Linked DNA regions of Homo sapiens: regions 1 and 3 are each linked to region 2. Evidence: fine-mapped expression QTL. A gene starts in region 2. Each other region holds a variant in brackets. All regions are shown on one strand. Distances are from middle to middle.

Region 1 (5,000 bases), 110 kb before region 2:
TTTTTTTTTTTTCAAGACACAGTCTCACTCTGCTGCTGAGGCTGGAGTGCAGTGGCGCGATTTCAGCTCACTGCAACCTCTGCCTCCCGGGTTCAAGTGATTCTCGCGCCTCAGCCTCCTAAGTAGCTGGGACTACAGGCAGCTACCACCACGCCCAGCTAATTTTTGTATTTTTAGTAGAAATGGGGTTTCACCATGTTGCCCAGGCTGGTCTCAAACTGCTGACCTAACCTGATCCCCCCCGCCTTGTCCTCCCAAAATGCTGGGATTATAGATGTGAGCCACCTTGCCCGGCCCTTTTTTCCTATTTTCTAAATGTTGTATATTGTAGTTATATATTTATATAGCTTATTTTAATTGCTATATAGAAAAAATTATGCTGGGAGAAAGGGCAAAATAAGCACATAAGCAAAGCTCACAAATACACAGATATATGCAGACACACAAATACTCATATGATCTCCGGAATAAGGAATGTGGCTTGGATTCCCAGCTCTACTACCTTGTGCAAATTACCTTACTCAGTCTATGTTTATAACACACACATATCTGTGTAATGAACATAACACCTGTCCTGCCTATCTCTGTGGTTTTACTATGGGGCTTCATCCCCACAAAGGCAAGTAAATGCTGTGCAAATAGAAGGTGTAGAGTCAGGTATAGCCTCTTTGAATTGTCACCTCTGCACTTCCAGCAAAGCCTTGCATACGGTGTAGCTTGGGAAGTAAACATGCTCATGTGGAGTATGTCCAACTGCCAAACAATAAAAATGCAATGAAATTGGAGCCTAACTAGTTGGTAATTTGTAGCCATTTGGGTGAGGCTGAAAGGGAGATGGTGAGGCTCAAGTACTGGCCTTAAAGTCAAGGGAATCTGTGCTACTACTTAGTAGAGTTGTGTGTCTTGGAGAACACATCCGCTCTCCGCATCTAGGTCTTCTTATCAACCCTGGAAAGGTTGGGTGAGCATCACGTGGTTTTCAGCTCCTGGTCATGGGAACAGAGCTCAATCACCACATCCCCATCCTCACTCAGTTGGTGTCTGTTGAGCAAACTCACTGAATGATAACACATGTGAATGTGCTAGGGAAGCTATGAAAATGACACACATTTTGGAAGGGAAGTAGAAAGGAAGAAGCAAGCTCAAGTTGTATCAAGCACCCACTCTGTGGCATTTCCATACACAGCATGCAGTTTACAGCTTACACACTGCTTGCAATAGACTTTGAAACAGGCAGGAAGAGCAAGGGTTACAGATGCAGAAAGGTTTGAGATGCAGTGTCACCTGTCTAATCACAGAAGGTAGGAACTGATGAACCAGGGTGTTCAAGCCAATCTCTCCACTGCAAATCAGGATGCCTGACGGGGCAACCAGGTTGAAGAGCTCAGGACAAAGTCATCGCCGCTCCTGGAGGGGGTTGAGGCCTTGGTGACAAGCACAGCTTCAGGAGAGAGCCAGTCTGAGAGTTGAGTTTTGGCTCCACCACTTTTTGTCTGTGTAACCTTGACCAGGTCACTTAATGCTCTAAGCCTCAGTGCCCTCATCTGTAAAATGGGGGCAATAATAGTTCTTTCCCTACAGGATTGCCATGAGTCTAGATGAGCTAATGCATGTAAAGTGCTCAGCACAGTGCCTGGCTCTGGGCAGATATCACACTGTAGCCATGATTGCTCCTTTGTCATTTGTCCATGGCTCTGCTGGCAGCTGCTCACTTAGAGTTTATTAAATGACTAACTGGAGCGTGGCACTTTCCTGGCAGAACCTCCCAAAACAAGCTAACAGTTTAGTAATCAGAGACTAGATGGTTGGAGGGTTAGAGGAATGCAAACACCAGCATGTGTTTATCATTTGTGCTGTTCAGAGCTTCTGTTCCATAAAGCAGCTCCCACAGTTGCCTTTGGAAATGAGTACAAGCACGAGGAAAGGGCACTGGTAAGCCTGTTTGCAGCACAGCAGTAGCACATCAGGGAGGAAACCAGCTCTGGGAGGTTTGACTGCAAGGTGATGGAAAGGCAGGGCCCCACCCAACCCACCCCTTCTGATCTGGTAACAGAGGCTGGCTCGTACTGGGTGCCAGGGCATGCCTTAAGCCCTGCAC[A/G]CACAGCCTCATGATATTTTCACAGCAACCCCACAGAGGAGGCCCTGCTATCATCTTCATTTCACAGATAGCAAAGCAAGGCTTAGGAAAGAAATGAAGCCACTCTCCTAAGAAATCACAGCTATAACTGGAGGAGGGGAGACTTGAACTTAATCTGGAGTTTGCCCTTTTAACCCTCATGCAAAATTTTATCTCTTTAGCCCTTTATAATTTGCAAGGCATCTCCCGTTTTTGATCGTATGTGACTCATAGTTTGTTATGGATATAACTGTGTCCCCCCCCTCTTTTCCAAATATTTATATGTTGAAATCCTAACTCCCAGCAACTCCATCGCAACCTTATTTAGAAATGGAGATTGTGGAGATGTAATTAGTTAAGATGAGATTATACTGAAGTAGGGTGGGCCCTAATCCAATACTAGTGTTCTTATAAAGTGGGGGAATTTTGGAGATAGATGCCCACAGAGGGAATGCCTTGTGAAGATGAAGGCAGAGATAGAGGTGATGTGCTTATAAGCCAAAGAATGCCAAAGATTGCCAGACCTAAGAGAGATGCATGAGACAGATTCCTTCATGACCCTCAGAAGGAACAGACCCTGCAGACACTTTGATCTTTACACTTCCAGCCTCCAGAACGCTGAGACAACACATTTCTGTTGTGTAAGCCCCTTGGCTTGTGGTACTTTGTTACAACAGCCCTAGCAAACTCATACACAACTGTTTTGGGAAATAAAGTCAGCTGTTCCTATTTTATAGGGGAGGAAAAGGAGGAAGAGAAAAATGAAGTGCTACAGGACAAACCACTAGGAAGTGGAAGGGTTAAGAAACCCAGTTTGGGCTGGGCGCAGTGGCTCACACCTGGAATCCCAGCACTTGGGGAGGCCGAGGCCGGTGGATCACCTGAGCTCAGGAGTTCGAGACCAGCCTGGCCAACATGGTGAAACCCCGACTCTGCTAAAAAATACAAAAATTAGCTGGGCATGGTGGCTGGCGTCGCCTGTAATCCCAGCTACTCAGGAGGCTGAGGCAGGATCATTGCTTGAACCTGGGAGGCAGAGGTTGCAGTGAGCCGAGATTGCACCATTCCACTCCAGCCTGGGTGACAAGAGTGAAACTCTGTCTCAAACACAAAACAAAAAACAAAACCAGTTTTTTGGACCAAGAATTTGCCCCCATCCAATCAGACCTGCTTCTGCACATTATAATATGCCTCGTGTCAGCAGAGTGGTTTACAGTGTACAAGAGTTCACCACATATGGACTCAGTTGATTGCACAATAATCATAAATCCTATGCAATAACAAGGAACATGGTAGTATCCCCATTTCTAATGGAGGAAACTGATGCTCAGACCGAAGTGTGGATTCCAGAGGTGGGGGTAGTGGTAATATCCACAGCATGTTTATCTGCCAGGATGTGACCTTTTACTCATGCATTATCTGATTTAAATGTACGTCCCAAGATTCAAGAATCTTGGTCTGCAGCACAGTTATCTACTTAGTCTAGCAAATAAAGAATCTGTGATTAACATATCAGTACAGATATCTTGGAAAAATCTTGAAACTGGTCCTCTGTTGCCTTTCTGCAAATAAGATATATTAAGTAATTTCTCCATCAACCTCAAAGGCAAATAGAAACTTTCCAGTCTTTGGAAACAGCAGAATCCTGGTCTGTGTCTTTTAAAACACAGCCAAGGGCAGTGTGAGTTGACTCTGTCCCTGGCTCACAAGGAAATCCAGTTTTGTGAAGTATTTTCATCTGAATGACAGGCGTAAAGGCAAGGACGAGCATTTTCTTTGTAACAGGAATGTATTCAGAGCTGAGCTCCCAGACTCCTAACAAGGAGTGCTGAGCTGTGAATAAGCCTAATTCTGCAACACGCTGGTCTCCTGGTGTAGATGAAGTTGTCTGCTTAGAACCTTGATGGGAGATGCTGCACCAGGCTGATGAAAATGCATGCCCTGAGGCCCCAGAAATCTTTCGCGGGGCATATCCTGTGTTCTCCTCCCTTGGCACCTTGCCAAGAGTCCCTGACCTCAAATATCTCCACTCTCTGGGGGAAATGCATTTGCAATGCCCTGTAATGACAGCTAATGTTGAGCACTTACTCTCTGTCAGTCATTAAGCTAAGTACCTTTTGTACATTAGGTCATTTAATCCCTCTAAATAGAAACCGAAGGAAGGTAGCGTTATTCTCTCCATTTTTCACAGGAAATTGCCCATGCACATGTCAATGAGGGAGGCAAGCCCATGGGATCTAAAAGCAGTACCTCCTAACTCAGGGTTGGGATAATGGCAAGAGGGAGGAATGGTTTTACGGAAGAGTCGACACCAGGGCTGAGTCTTAAAAGGTGACCAGGAATTTTGCAGGAGGACAAGGATGAGGGAAGGGCATGCAGGCCAAGTTAACAACTGGAACAAAGGCAGGGAGGCTCAGAGTCTCAGGTTTCTGAAAATCACAGTGGTCCAGTAAGGCCAGAGGGATGGGTATATTCCGGCGGTTGGCGGGAATTCCTCCTATCCCGTTTCCTCTCCCCTCCATTCGAGGTCAGCCTCCCCATCACTCTGTGCTCAGCCTGATGAACCTTTCTTCTGTCCTTGAATGTGCCAACCTCCATCTTTCTCTCCAACTTCCAGGCCTTTGCCCAGGCTGTGGCACAGGCCTGGGTCTCAGCCCTGCCCAGCTCTCTTCCTCCAGGCTTCGTTCCCTGCTTATATAATTGTCTGACTGTTCACTTCCACCATCCTGGCTGCCCCTAAGCATAGGCCCAGGCTTTCTCACTTGCAACTGTGTTTGCAAAGCCTGGCCCGGTGCTTGGCGCGCAGCAGGCAGGCACTCTGTAAGCATTTGTTGAGTGGCATTAGTGGTATGTATTAGTTTCCAGTTGTTGCTACAATAAATTA
Region 2 (9,857 bases):
GAGGGGAATCACATGTGCTAAGGCTTTTCCACCAAGGGAGACAAAAATGGAATAAAAGGAAAATAGCAAAAATATAAGGAGAATTAGATTCAAATCCTAAGTCTACTATTTTTTGATGTTTTTGGCAAATTACTCAATGTTTCCAAGCCTCAATTTGCTCTTCTGTTCTGTAGGAAAAATACCCATCTCACTGGCGCATTAATGAAAAAGGGTCCATGATATAAAATGGATATTTCTTCCTGCCTCATCTCTTCCATTTTCATAAAATTCATAGCCAACTTGGAACGTCATTCCAGGTCTGTCTAATACTGGTTCAAATGGACTATGCTTTATTCCAAGCAAAAAGCATATCCTATTATGACAAAAAGGTTTCTATTAAAAATAGAGAGCAGATAAAAGGGAGACCATCATCCAGGAAGCCATCGGCTGATTCATAAAAATACAGAATGAGTCATCCTGTATCCCAAGGCTAAAACTTATAATCAATGATCATGTCTGGCCAGCCAATCCCAGCCCAGAGGAGAAGGAGCTGCCCAGTGGGCCATTTACAAGCCTATTACAATCCTTCCTTGTAAAACCATTAACTCTGCTTCCAGCTTGGTGAAAGGAAAATCAATCTGGGCTGTTTGCAACACTGTATTCCAAATGTACCTGCAGCCTGGTTGGCTTTCTGAACAACTAGGGTCGGGGAAGTGCAGTGATTTCTGTGTGTGTGTGTGTAGCGCCACTGAAGAACAGGCTTTCACATCTGGCTTTGAAAATCAATCTCTTGGCCTTCATCTTGACATTTATTATTTCAAAATGCTTCAGTTCCTATCAGCAATTATGCAGTTAACATAAGACTGGAAAACACAGAACTATGTGTACTGCAGATGATGCTCTTTCCTTTAAAAAGTAGTTTTATCATTTTCCCTCTCTGAATATGTACTCTAGAATCCTAGAATCCCATCCTCAATTTGGATGAAGGGTCATAAATTACATACGCATACATATGCAACTGTATATATAATTGTATATATGTATATGCACATATATGCATAGGTGTGTGTATACAGGTAATTTTTTTTGATGAAGTGGTTAAGGAAGGAGAGTTCTAAATGCATGGTTTTAATTGTACTAAGCAAAAGCTCTTCCACCAGCAAGTAAAGAAAAATAATGACCCAACAATCCTCCTCCGAGCTCTTTCCTCAATCCATTCATTCAGCGATAACTTATTTAGGATGTGCAGTGGGCCAAACAGTGTGGGGTGGGGGAGTGGGCTGGTCTTTGGGGATTTAGCTGCGAAAGGGCAGATATAAGCTCTCCTTCTGGGATCAAACAACTTGGTTCAATAAGAGTTTATTGTACAGGATCCCCCGGTTTGCAAAAGCCTCTTCCCTTACCCGGAATTCCCCACAGAGACTCACGAGTCGTGTTCAGAGTCAAACCTGACCAGCTGCATATATGAGCAGCAAGGCAGGGATCAGCGGCTGCTTCTCCCACTAGCTGCTTTCTAATCTGGCCGATGAAACCTGCGTCTGTTCTCAAGGTGGTGAACGGGAGGGGACCCTCGTTTGTATTTCTCGTGCCTCTAGAGAGGTCCAGATATTGGGTTTCTGATCTAACCTAGAAGCTCGTGAGCTGGCTGCTGCTTTGGAGAGCAGTATGTACTGGGGGGCTCTAGAAAACAGATGGGAAGGAATAGGCTCGTCTCACCGTGATTAATAGCAAGTTCCCCTTACAAGTTTAACATGCAAACCTAGTGTTGGGTCCAGTCCGCCTCTGCTGGGTAAGCTCTTCCCAGAACTTCAGGGAAATTACAGTGCCCGCACACAGAGAGGCTTAAACTCTCCCCGGGAATTTCAGCTGAGCGTGAGGGCCTGGAGAAGTTCCCCCAGGGGGAATGGGGAATAGAGGGCAGCTTAGAGAGCTGAGCTCCTTCTGAGATGGGACCAGGAATTCCGGGGAGACTGATCAGGGTTTTTTCCCCTCTCGGAGAAACAGAGGATGGAGAGGGGCATGGAGGGGGTTGCGCTGCAGCCCTGGTCTCCACCCTCACCAAGCCTGGGTGCAAGGTACCGACCCTCTTCCTTCCTAGTTCCTTTCCCCGTCAGGCTACGGGGAAGGAAGTGGGCAGGAGGCGGGATCCAGCCCTGCACCCTGTCCCAGGCCCTTCAGGACAACAGCATAGAGGTGAAAAAAGATCATGTATCAAATTCCCGGCCAAGCCACTTAGTGGCAGCTGACTGATCTTGGGCAAATCACTCATTCTCGCTGAGCGGCGGCTTTCTTACCTGTAAACGGATCATGATGGCACCTGACTCATTAGGTCCCAGGAAGTATTAAATAAGATCGCACGTGTAAAACTACCAACGGCGGCTGGCACACAGTGGGCTTGCGGTTCTTAATACATATATTTTTAATTCTGTTAAGCATCAACCCTCCCGTGCGAAAGCTGAGTTGTCCTCTCAGACGGAGAACTCCCGTAGCGCAATCTTCCAGACCCGGGGTGCCTGGGCGCCAGCATTCTCCCCGCGCCCAGGAGCTCACATTCTCCTCCCGTCACCCCTAGATCTGGCTTGGGGAGGCCGCCCCTCTGCATCCTCCCCAGCTTTGGCCCGGGGAGGCTCTGAGACCCGGGTGAGGGCGCGGAGGGGGTGCGCGCGGCGGTTCTACCCGGGCAGCATCCCAGCCGCAGCTTTCCCACCCCCTCCCCAGCGCCCAGCGCGCAAAAAGAGAGAAAGCGAGAAAGGCGCGGATACTGGACCAGGCTTTGACGCGGATCTTGAGCTCGCCGTCCTGAGGCTCGGGCATGGCCTTCCTGAAGAGCCGCAGCTTGTTGAGCCCCCCGAAGCCAGCCAGCACCACCGCGCGCATCTCCTGGGCGTCCCCGAGGCGGTGCGAGCCGTCGCCGCCGCCGCCCTCCGCCGGCTCCTTGCCTGCCTCCTTCTCGATCATTTGCTCCGTCTCCTCCGCCTTCTCCACGCCTTCCTTGGCCATGGCGCTCGAGGGCGCGGGGCGCACGGGCTGCGGTGGCTGCGGTGGCTGCGGCGCTGGGGGAGTGGGGCTCCTCTCCCGCGGGTTCCTCCTGTTGAATGTGGGATGCTCGGCTGTGCAATGGCTGCAGCCTCTGCGAGCGCCGCCGCGGTCCACAGCCTCCGCCGTAATCCTCACAAGAGCCGTGCCCTAAGCGCTTCACCCCCGCCCCACCCTTCTTTCCTGTCCCAACGAAGCCTCAACTCCAGTTCCTGAAATAGTCCCAAGTTAGGGTCGGGATCGCGGCCCTAAACCCAAATTTGCCGAAGATCTGTGACTAAAACGAGCCTAGAGAGACCACCCTGTCATCCCCCTTCCTGTGGGCCCAGTACTTGGTTATATACGGCACAGGCTCGGGTGCCTTGAAATGGACCGAGACTAATGTCTGGGCCTGGAGGATGCCTTACCGCGACAAGGTTGCCCTCTCTCCCTCCCATCTTCGAGGCTGGGCGGGATAGTCGGGAAATTGGGTCGTTTCTCAAACAGCCAGTTTTGGGTGGAAGGGCGGAGAGGTTTGGGAAGCAGGGAACTAGAGATCCCGCTCACTGCCCTGAAGAGTCCAGTGCAGGGTCTTTTCACTCCAGACCTGCAGGGTCAGCCGGGATGCTCTTTGCTGGGTATCACCAGGGGCTTCCTTACGACGGCGAATTCTCACCACCCACACCATTTCGGGCTATTAAAGAGGCTTCAGACAAGAATCCTGTACCAGAAAGGATCCTGTTCGTGTTCTGATCCCCGGAAGACCAGTGTGTACCCGCTCCCCAACATGCATGCACATACACAGAGTAGTAACTGGCGTTTTGTTTTGTTATCAGGCTCTTTGAGAAAAACAGCTCATAGAAAAACTTGGAATTTCTGAAATAAAATAATGGGGAAGGACGTGGTTTTCCTAGGGGCAGTTTAAGGAAAGAGATGCAGGTGAGGAAGTAGGTCTATATTCTATTATAGTTGCTATGCCATTGCCAGCCTTGAGATCTTGGGCAACTCATTCAACCTTCCTGAGCCTCAACACACTCATCTATAAATTGGGTACATTGATTTTTTTTTCTATATTGTGTGAAGTGCTGGGGTGGACATGATTTCAGTGAGACATGGTCCTTATATTGGAAAAGGTCAATTTCAGAGCATGAGGCATGAAGGACACAGTCAACAAATGTGGTACAATGAATGATGTAAGTGCTGCCTCTTCTCTCCCCTCATTCTTCCTGTGCCTCACTGCTTTAAATGCCCTTGTCTTCTATTCCTTAAAAAAAAAAAAAAAAAAAAAAAAGACGATTGCCATTTTCCCTCCTTCCACAGGGTTCTGCACCTGCTGTCCCCTTGGCCTGGGGTATGTGTTCCATCTCCTTTATCTGGTGTTAACTCCTACTTCGTTCTCACCTCAAGGGTCCATTCCTGTTGGGAGGCACTCCAACCTCCAGATTGGTGTCCTCCCTGACTATAGACACTTATGTCCCTTTGTAGCCAACTTTTATATGTTTACCTGATAATATCTGTTTCCTTTATCCAACTGTGAACTTCATGTGAGCAGGAGCTATTTCTACTTTTATCCAGCGTGGTTTTCCCAGGGCTTAATACATGATTGGTACATAGTAGAATATGCACAGAGGCAGCCTGTTGAAAAACTGGTCCAGAGAGTTGGAGAAGTTCTCATGGAGGAGGGAACATTTGGGCTAGACCTTGAAGGATAAGGCAGGTTCTTCTGGCAGAAAAGGTCGCAAGCTCATTCAAATAACACAGAAAGGTAACAGGTAAAAGGGCTTTTGAGATTCTGGTTTGTTCTATGTAGGCAGAACATTGGCTGTATTTAGCAATCATTGGAGATGAGGCTGAAAGGTTTATTGGGACCAGCTTTTGAAAGTTCTCACATACCAGGTTATAAAATTTAAGACATAATCACAGAGGCAATTGGTGCCATAAAGGCTTAAAAAACAAAAACATGGGGAGAGCATTACCAGAACTGCATTTTAGGATAATAACTTTGACAGTAAGTGGGTGATGGATTAGATGATAGAGTTACTGGAAGCATCGAGATCAGTTAGAGACTAAGTGCAGGCAAAAAAAAAAAAAAATCCCCAAAAAGAAACAAAATAAATGAGAATGGTCCCAACTGAGGCAATGGCCATGGGATGGAAGGAAGAGGGCTAAAAGAAGCCTGAATAGGGCTTGGTTAGTGAATTGAACATTTTATTGTGAATCCAATTGTCCAAATTGTTTGTCTTGTTTACATTGTGAGATACAGTGTTTAGGCTGGATTCTGTCCTGAAACAAGAATTTGAACACCCGTCGTTTATTTTGGAAGTAATCCCAGGAAGCTCTGGCTGGGAAGTAGGAAAGTGAGACAGAAAATTGATACTACCCAATATGAGATGTATTAATAAGCAGATTACCGCAGTGGACAATTGGAGCTCAAACCCGCAGGGGACATTTGAGAGACAGTGTAGAACAAGTCTCAGAGTTGTCTCACCCAAGGAGTGAGGACATAGGTATTTATTCACTAAAGTCTATGCTTGATTGGTCAAGAACTGTTCCTGGAATTGTTAACTCCTTGACATTTCCATCCTGTCCCATGTACTTGGGCTGAGAGAATCCCCAGGCAGAGAATTGTGGATGCTCTTTGCAGGAAGCTATCATTTTATACATGGAATGATGAATTCCATGGAGACATAGCTTTGGCACCAATAATATCTGCAATATATGTTATTGTTTTGGAGGTGTCTACTGTTCTAGACACTGTAGGTATATTTCTTAATTTGATTCTGAAAATAATCTCATGAGTAAGAATTCCTATTCCCACTTTATGGAAGAGGAAAATGAAAATGAATCTTAACATGATGAATTATTGTGCTCAAAGGAACATGCTAGTTATAATGAGATAGAAGACCAACTCCAAATCTGTGCTCTTAAGATCTCATCATGCATGTTTATACGGACAGGCCAAACCAGTTCTGCCCCTGATTGACAATACTCCATGGCATTTTTTAATGTTCCCTGCTCTTTTTTTTCACCGCCTACTATCTCTGTACCACCAAGGTCCCTTGCCTTGGTTCTGAGTGTTTGTTTTCCTTTGGCATTAGTAAAGTAAACCCACTTTGTAGTCAGCACACAGCATGTTAAAGAGAAAGTGTTTGTCTTACAGTGTGTTAAAGGGAATATAATTACTCCCTCCAAGGGAATCTTCTGGCTGTTTACAAACCCCAGATTATAATTGGTAGGCAGCTGATTATCACAACAACCCAGAGAGAACCCACCACAGTCTGTGCTGCTTGTGGGGGGGTGGGGAGATACCCTCTTCTGAGTCCTATATACCACTATTGTTAAATATTCCCAACTCTGGTACTCCCTGGTGGAACGTGGAAAGAGCCACAGTGCATGGCATATCTCCAAATAAACACAATAAATCAATTTTTAATTTGTAAAATTGATTCCTTGGACATTCACTCAGAGCCTCCGTTGTGGAATTTCTTACATTATTGTAGAATAATGTGCATTATGTACATCATTGTACATAATGTCAAACAGTGGCCACTGATGGTAAAACAGAGTATTACAGCTCAGCTCTGTTACCTTGCAAATGGTCTGGGGCAGGGTATGTGCACGTGGGGGTGTGTGTGGGGGGTGGGGGGGGATGTAGAAGGCCAGATATAGGAACCCCTAATAGAGGTAAAGTCTCTGAGTAAGAAAATATGGGAAACCATCAGTACTGAGAGGTGACAGCATACTGGCAGCCCTCACAGCCCTCGCTCACTCTCGGGGCCTCCTTGGCCTTGGCGCCCACTCTGGCCGCGCTTGAGGAGCCCTTCAGCCCGCTGCTACACTGTGGGAGCCCCTTCCTGGGCTGGCCGAGGCCGGAGCCGGCTCCCTCAGCTTGCGGGGAGATGAGGAGGGAGAGGCCCGAGCGGCAACCGGGGCTGCGTGCAGTGCTTGCGGGCCAGCTGGAGTTCCTGGTGGGCGTGGGCTTGGCGGGCCCTCACTCGGAGCGGCCGGCCGGCCCTGTCGGCCCCCGGCAATGAGGAGCTTAGCACCAGGGCCAGCGGCTGCGGAGGGTGTGCTGGGTCCCCCAGCACTGCCGGCCCACTGTCGCTGCCCTCCCGGGGCCTTAGCTGCCTTCCCGCGGGGCAGGGCTTGGGACCTGCAGCCCGCCATGCCTGAGCCTCCCCTCGCCGCTCCATGGGCTCCTGTGCAGCCTGAGCCACCCCGACGAGCGCCACCCCCTGCTCCACGGCGCCCAGTCCCATTGACCACCGAAGGGCTGAGGAGTGCGGGCGCACGGCAAGGGACTGGCAGGCAGCTCCACCTGCAGCCCCCATGCGGGATCCACTAGGTGAAGCCAGCTGGGCTCCTGAGTCTGGTGGGGACTTGGAGAACCTTTATGTCTAGCTCAGGGATTGTAAATACACCAATCATCACTCCGTATCTAGCTCAAGGTTGGTAAACACACCAATCAGCACCCTGTGTCTAGCTCAGGGTTTGTGAATGCACAAATGGACACTCTGTATCTAGCTACTCTGGTGGGGACTTGGAGAACCTTTGTGTCGACACTCTGTATCTAGCTAACCTAGTGGGGACGTGGAGAACCTTTGTGTCTAGCTCAGGGATTGTAAACGCACCAATCAGCGCCCTGTCCAAACAGACCACTGGGCTCTACCAATCAGCAGGATGTGGGTGGGGCCAGATAAGACAATAAAAGCAGGCTGCCTGAGCCAGCAGTGGCAACCCGCTGGGGTCACCTTCCACACTGTAGAAGCATTGTTCTTTAATTCTTTGCAAGAAATCCTGCCGCTGCTCACTCTTTGGGTCCACACTGCCTTTATGAGCTGTAACACTCACCGCAAAGGTCTGCAGCTTCACTCTTGAAGCCAGCGAGACCATGAACTCACCGGGAGGGACGAACAACTCCAGACGCGCTGCCTTAAGAGCGGTAACACTTACCGCGAAGGTTCACGGGTTCACTTCTGAGCCAGTGAGACCACGAACCCACCAGAAGAAAGAAACTCCGAAGACATCCGAACATCAGAAGGAACAAACTCTAGACGCGTCACCTTAAGAGCTGTAACACTGACCGCAAGGCTCCGCGGCTTCATTCTAGAAGTCAGTGAGACCAAGAACCCACTAATTCTGGACACAGTACACTTTTAGAAATCGTTTTCTAAATTATTTGGAATGGTTCAGTAACTTCCCAGAGAAATGTTATTTAAGGAAGAGGGTCAATGTCTTTAACTATATGCTTTAATAATATTTGTTGCATTGTATTCTCTTCAATACAATTAGAATCATTTGTTGTACATATTTCATCTTTAAAATAATCCTATGCTATAGGACTATTATCCCTACTTTACAGAGGAGAAAATTTAATATAAACTGAGTAACTTTCCCAGAATTACTTCCTAAACAAATTGCAGAGTTGAGATTTGAAATGGGAGCTATTTGACTTTGAAATGTATGTTCTTAACCACCACACTTCAATGCTTATGGTTTTATTTGTTGCTCTTTTACTCACAAGAATGCCATCAAATAGGTTAAGAAAAAGGAGACAAATTTAGGAGGTCAATAATGGAGAGAGGTAAAAGATTCTGGCTGTTGAAATATCCTAACAAAATCCAGGGAGTTATATTAGAGGATTTGTGCCATAATTTCTTATAGTTTGTGGTTAATTCCCAATGAGCACAACATTATTTTTCAGAGAAGTGCTAGAGAAGTGTGCAGCCCATCCTGATGGTGGCAGTATACACTTCCTGTCTACACTTTGTAGGACGGGTCTTACATGGTAAACTCTAGTTGTGTCTGAGGGGAAAAAAAGTGCACTGATACTTATCACCTTTTGAGTGGTGACCTTGTGCTGTTGCTAAATGCTGGAGATAACATGGTGAATAAGACAAATATATTCTCAGTCCTAATGGAGTTATCAGCCCTGTTGAGGAGGTATATATTGGGTTGCCCAGGAGCAAACGTTTGTTAATTTGAAGATTTGCATACATACGGCTTGAGAAGTGATCCCAGGAAGCACTGGAAGAGGTCTGTGAAGGTGAGACAGGGTAGGAAAGAAGCCAATATGAGGTGTATTACTTAGCAGGTTATCACTGCTATAACCTGCTTAAATCCTGCTGGGGAACTCTAGGAGACAGCGTAGAGCACATCTCAGATGTATCCCCATCAAGAGGCAAAGAAAATGGAGAATCCACCAGCTCCTGTTAGTCCTTAGTTGAGGACTGTTTCTGTGGGGCACTAGCCATCTGCCACTTCTAGCCTGCCATGCACATGGGCTGTTTGGGAATAGGCAGCCAGACAAAGCTGTCCTGAAAGAGTTGCAGGTGTTTGTACTTGGAAGCCATGGGGTCGCTGTGCATGGCAGTGATGAGATCCAAGAGGGGGTAGGTTGGGCACTGACCATCTCTGCTACATATATTAAACCAAAAAAAAAAAAATCATGTAAGTAATTAGTCATTTACCAGTTCAATAAGTGCTGTAAAGGGGAAATACAAGGGGCTATCTGCATGGTCGGTAAAAGCTTCTCTATGAAAGCAATGGTAATGTATTAGGTTCAGCTACAGACAACAAAATATAATAATAAAATAAAAATTGGCTTAAAGAATATAAAATACATTAGGATGGGATGGAGGCTGTACATTATCATCAAGGATCAGTGTTCCTTCCTGCTCTGTACTCCAGGTCATGAATCACTGGCCTCCATTCTCATAGTTTAAGATATAGCCATCACATTTATGTGCTGGGTGACAGGACAGAGATGCGTGAGAGGGGAAGAAAGACCCACAGCTTTCATCTTAAGGGCACTTCAGGACTCCACCATAATACATGTACTTATCTCATATTAGCCAGAGCCT
Region 3 (5,000 bases), 42 kb before region 2:
GACAGAGCTGAAGACTGGATTCAGGTTTGCCTGTCTTCTTCTTACCAAACAACCCAGCCTTCAGTAGATGATAACTCTGCCCATGAAATGTTGCTGGGAGGATGAACCATGTATTATTCTGTTCTCACACTGCTAATAAAGAAATACCCAAGACTGGGTAACATAAAGAATAAGAGGTTTGGCCAGATGCGGTGGCTCACGCCTGTAATCCCAGCACTTTGGGAGGCCGAGGCGGGCAGATCACCTGAGATCAGGAGTTCGAGAACAGCCTCGCCAACGTGGTGAAATCCCATCTCTACTAAAAATACAAAAATTAGCTGGGCATGGTGGCTCGGGCCTGTAATCCCAGCTACTCAGGAGGCTGAGGCGTGAGAATCCCTTTAACCCGGGAGGCAGAGGCTGCAGTGAGCTGAGACTGCGCCACAGCCCTCCAGCCTGAGAGAGTGAGACTCCATCTCAACAACAACAAAAAAGAATAAGAGGTTTAATGGACTCACAGTTCCACATGGCTGGGAGGCCTCCTAATCATGGTGGAAGGCAAAGGAGGACCAAAGTCATGTCTTACATGGTAGCAGGGAAGAGAGCTTGTGCAGGTGAACTCCCCTTTATAAAACCATCAGATCTTGTGAGAATTACTCCGTATCACAAGAACAGCATGGGAAAGACTCCTCCCACTGGGTCCCTCCCACAACATGTGGGAATTATGGGAGCCATAATTCAAGATGAGATTTTGGCGGGGACACAGACAAACCATATCAAACCATAGACAAATAAAAGGCTGTAAGGATTCTCCTATAGCTTTTATTAAAGGGTTAAGGCTACCCAGACAAGAGAGGACAGTATGGCTTCCCAGAGGAGCTTACATCTGAATTGGGAGAGAATACCATTTTGGAAAGAAAAAAACAGCATATGAAAAGGCACAGAGGTTCAGAGCTTCAAATTTTGCTACTTTGATGCTATTAGATTACATTAGGAGTACACCATAAGATAAAGAGTGTTCTGAGTAGAGTGAGAAGGTCAGGGTGGCTGGAGGGCAGAGTGCTGATCTTGCCTCATCTTCCCTGAGACAGTTTCTGAAAAGGCACAGAATAGAGGCGCATCTCATGTTCCTCGAGGGGCTGGCTGGAGGTGGTGGACCAGTGACAGCATCAAATGGGGTCAGGAAGCCGGGGCACATGCTGGCACCTAGGTTCACTTCATTTTCTCTAACCCTCAGCTTCCACTTCTGTAAAATGGGAATGATGCTTGCTTACTGCCTATAGTAATCTCTGCTCAGATGATATGATGATAAAGGTAAGAGGACTCTGAAAACTGCAAAGCATCAGATATCAGACACAAATGCAAATAACCTCACAGGAACAGTAATGCCACTCTCCAGAAACTGAGCACACCCGGATTAAGAGACTCAGAGTCATAGCAGCTTTATCAACAAGGCTCATTAAACGGGACTGGCAACAAAACTCGAGGCCCAACATGAGTCTCATTCTGTTACCTATTTTGTTACTTTTCCTTTAAAGGATTGTGACCCAATTTTCAACCAGTTTCTAAAGATCTTATTAAGAGCACTGCCATTTGGGGCCATCTTGTCATGCTATTGTCAGAGGAAAACAATGTCCTCAAAGATATGACAGAGCATGGAGGCAGTGGGCAATTCCAATGAGAGTGTATCCTGCTCCAGATTGAATTATTTTTCCATGCTGTATTCAGGTTTCCTTAAAACCATAGCTAAGTTTGGTATTCCTCACATGCTGTCTGCAAATTCCCCATCTCAGCCTTTGATGAAACTCGGACAGAAGTCTTGGTGCCATTAGGGCTACACACTTTACATAACCCTATTTAGGAAACTTTGCCCCAGCTATTACTAGGTTTAGTCTTCTTTGTCATCTCATCGACACCAAGTTAGCAAATATGTACCTGGGCCCGTCTTTTGGATCTTGAAAACATCTATGCTGAGCACTGGGTAGAGGTTGAACAAATATTTGTTAAATGAAGGACTGAAGAATCTGGGCTGGCTCTCCCAACATTTTGGGCTGTTGAATGGAAAGAGAAGAGGTTTTGGAATCAGCCAAATTGAGGTACGAATCGTAGTTCTGCAATTCGCTACTTTGATTTTCTTCAGGCCTCTGCTGGCGGGCCATAATGAAAAGGGAGGGAGAGAGGCAGCCCCAGGAAAGTGGTAGTATCGGTTTCCCATAAGTGGCAACAAATTAACACAAACTTAGTGGCTCAAAACACAGATTTGGGATATTAAATTGCTAGAGGTCTGAAGGGCAAAATGGGTTTCGCTCGGCTAAAATGAAGGTCTTAGCAGGGTTGTATTCCTTCTGAAAGCTCAAGAGGCGAATCCATTTCCTGCCTCTTCCAGCATCTAGAGGCCACCTGCTTCCTTGGTTCACAGCCTCCTCCTCCATCAGAGCCAGCAGTGTAGCTTCTCTCATTCTCTCTCTGATTCTTCTACTTCCCACTCCCACCTTTTTTATTTTTATTTTTTTATTTTTTTGAGATGGAGTTTTGCTCTTGTTGTCCAGGCTGGAGTGCAGTGGCACGATCTCAGCTCACTGCAACCTCTGCCTCCCGGCTTCAAGCGATTCTCCTGCCTCAGCCTCCTAAGTAGCTGGGATTACAGGCATGCGCCACCATGCCCAGCTAATTTTGTATTTTTATAGAGATGGGGGTTTCTCCACGTTGGCCAGGCTGGTCTCGAACTCCCGACCTCAGGTGATCCGCCCGCATTGGCCTCCCAAAGTGCTGGGATTACAGGCGTGAGCCACCGCGCCCGGCCCCCACTCCCACCTTTAAGGACTCTTGT[G/A]ATGACACTGGGTCATCCTGAATAACGCAGGATAACCTCCCTATCTCAACGTCCTTACTTTAGTCATACCTGTAAAGTTCCTTTTGCCAGGTAAGGCAACATACAGGTACCAGGGACTCACTGGTCTCTCCCTGCAGGGGAGTGTGATGGTGTGGGCTCTCTGCAGGACTCCTTAGATTTTGTAAGACAGTGCCCCACCCATCCCGGCTCAGCGGAGTGTTCACATATGTGGATCTGCACTTTGCCAAAAATCTCTTCTCTAATGGTAACCTTTAATTGCCACACACCACCTATCAAATCTCGTTTCAGAGAACGCTATTCAAAGAGACCAGCCCGTCTGAGAGATGGGTCCAACTGCACTTTTCAACTCTGCCTGAAGATTAAACCAGACCACATCCTTTTGGCCCAAGAATATATGCTCTCACTAAATCTTGCTTTACTTTGATGCTCTTAGATTACATTAAGAGTGCACCGTAAGAAAAACCTTCATGGAAACAGTTGCATTTACTATAACAGCTTTGTTGAGGATGTTTATTGCATTTCACCATACATTTCTTATGAGAAACCACAGAGAAAGAAAGAGTCCTCTGGTCCCCAAAACCAGTGTTAGTTATGGTTACCCCTAGTAACTGTTTTATTTCAATCAAATGAACACTAGTTCACATGGATGACCATTTCCCCCTATTTTCACTCACTATTAGAAAGCTAAGAGACAAAATTGTACAACTTCAGCAAAGCTTTAGGACAACATAGCCTGTGCTATGTGCATTGACTTATTTTCCAACCCTCATTGTCCACTTTCCCCAGTTCCTTCACCTGTTTTACACTTTAGTTAGTATTGTCGGTAGCATCTGTAAGCCCAGAATAGAGCACGATAAAAACTTCTTTTTATTTTCCAAGATTATTTTCCTTTTGTAAGACACATGCCCCTGACACATTCTTCTTTGCTCCAAGAACAAAACAATAAAAATAAAAACATGAAATGAAATATCATAGGTGTAAATGTATAAATACTAATTCTCAGCAGAACTGAGTCCAGCGTCATTGTAAAGACTGAAGCTTATGCTGATAGTATGACTACAAGTCTCTAATACTTTGTATGCTGAGCACACTAAGATCATAAATGCCAGCATTCTAAATGGCTTGCTTGCTGTTAACAGATTCACTGGAACTGAAAGCCATTTCTTTTCTACGGGATGCTTAGCTTTTATATGTCTTTATTCATGGTCGAAAGGTATCAGCAAATTTGCTAAAATGATTGAAGATATTTTTCTTAAGGCATTCCTAAAGTTTCCTATCTTTGCCTTCATGGTTCTGGATGTGAGCTTGTTTTCTTAGATACAAACAACGGAAATGTGCTCTACACTATATAGAGTTTTAATAGTTACAGAAAGCCAAGTTTTTCTTTTTTAAAATCAACGGTATGCTAGCAAAACCTCCAGTGAAATATCTCTGAGATACACCAAATCCTAAGAGTTTATTTCTGAGTTCATCAAACTACAGAATCAGTGACTCTGAGAACCTCTCAAAACCTCTAAGATAGGGGATTAATCTCTATATCCACAGAGTCTAGAACATGTTATGTGTTTAATTAATATGTTTTGAACTAGTAGGTAGTACCTTCCACTCTCAGAAACACTAACGTTCCACCCAGACCCCAGTAGACCAATGACAGACATAGTGCTTGCCATGTAGCAGGCATGCAATATACACTGAATGCCTGGCAATGAGACACAGACAAACCATGAGAGAAGTTTCTGCCATCCCTGAAATCTAGAGCAGAAATTTTGATTTCCACCATTCTCCGCCTTGGCAGAGACACACCTGACAGATGACGCTGACATGTGCAACCACTTTCATGAATGTACTTAGGTTTATGTATGATTTCTAGTGTGCTGGTACAATCTCTGCCCACTCAAGAAAATATAGCAGAATACAAATTAATAAGAATGTCATTAATATGGGAACCATCTCAAGTCCACTGCAATTTATTGAAAAAACTAAATCACTGACAAAATGACCATTTTGTCATTTCAAATAATAGCAGTAGTAGATGACTTGTGAGACGTCTTACAATGATTGACACAACTTTTCATCATGATACCAAGACTGTTGAGAATGCTTCTCTTTTTCTTTTTTTTTTTTTTTGAGACGGAGTCTCGCTCTGTCGCCCAGGCTGGAGTGCAGTGGC

What was found. PIP is the estimated chance that this variant, and not a neighbour inherited with it, causes the effect. A credible set is the group of variants that fine-mapping cannot tell apart.
Region 1: its variant is the best candidate, but not a certain one, in a credible set for the expression of VAT1L in esophagus mucosa (GTEx, PIP 0.76).
Region 3: its variant is the best candidate, but not a certain one, in a credible set for the expression of VAT1L in tibial nerve (GTEx, PIP 0.53).

The regions. Positions count from the first base shown.
Region 1 is chr16:77,895,708-77,900,707 of GRCh38, reverse strand. All of the region lies in intron 7 of VAT1L (vesicle amine transport 1 like), which reads right to left. Among named protein-coding and RNA genes, the nearest start is that of VAT1L, 110 kb to the right of the region's middle. The variant A/G (reference allele first, on the strand shown) is at 2,099.
Region 2 is chr16:77,781,805-77,791,661 of GRCh38, reverse strand. It overlaps VAT1L (vesicle amine transport 1 like), which reads right to left and starts at 3,098. Exons shown (of 9, transcript NM_020927.3): 1 at 2,747-3,098. The coding sequence starts at 2,979. All of the region lies in intron 1 of LOC107984878 (a long non-coding RNA gene), which reads left to right.
Region 3 is chr16:77,826,164-77,831,163 of GRCh38, reverse strand. The region is part of intron 3 of VAT1L (vesicle amine transport 1 like); the gene reads right to left. Among named protein-coding and RNA genes, the nearest start is that of VAT1L, 40 kb to the right of the region's middle. The variant G/A (reference allele first, on the strand shown) is at 2,810.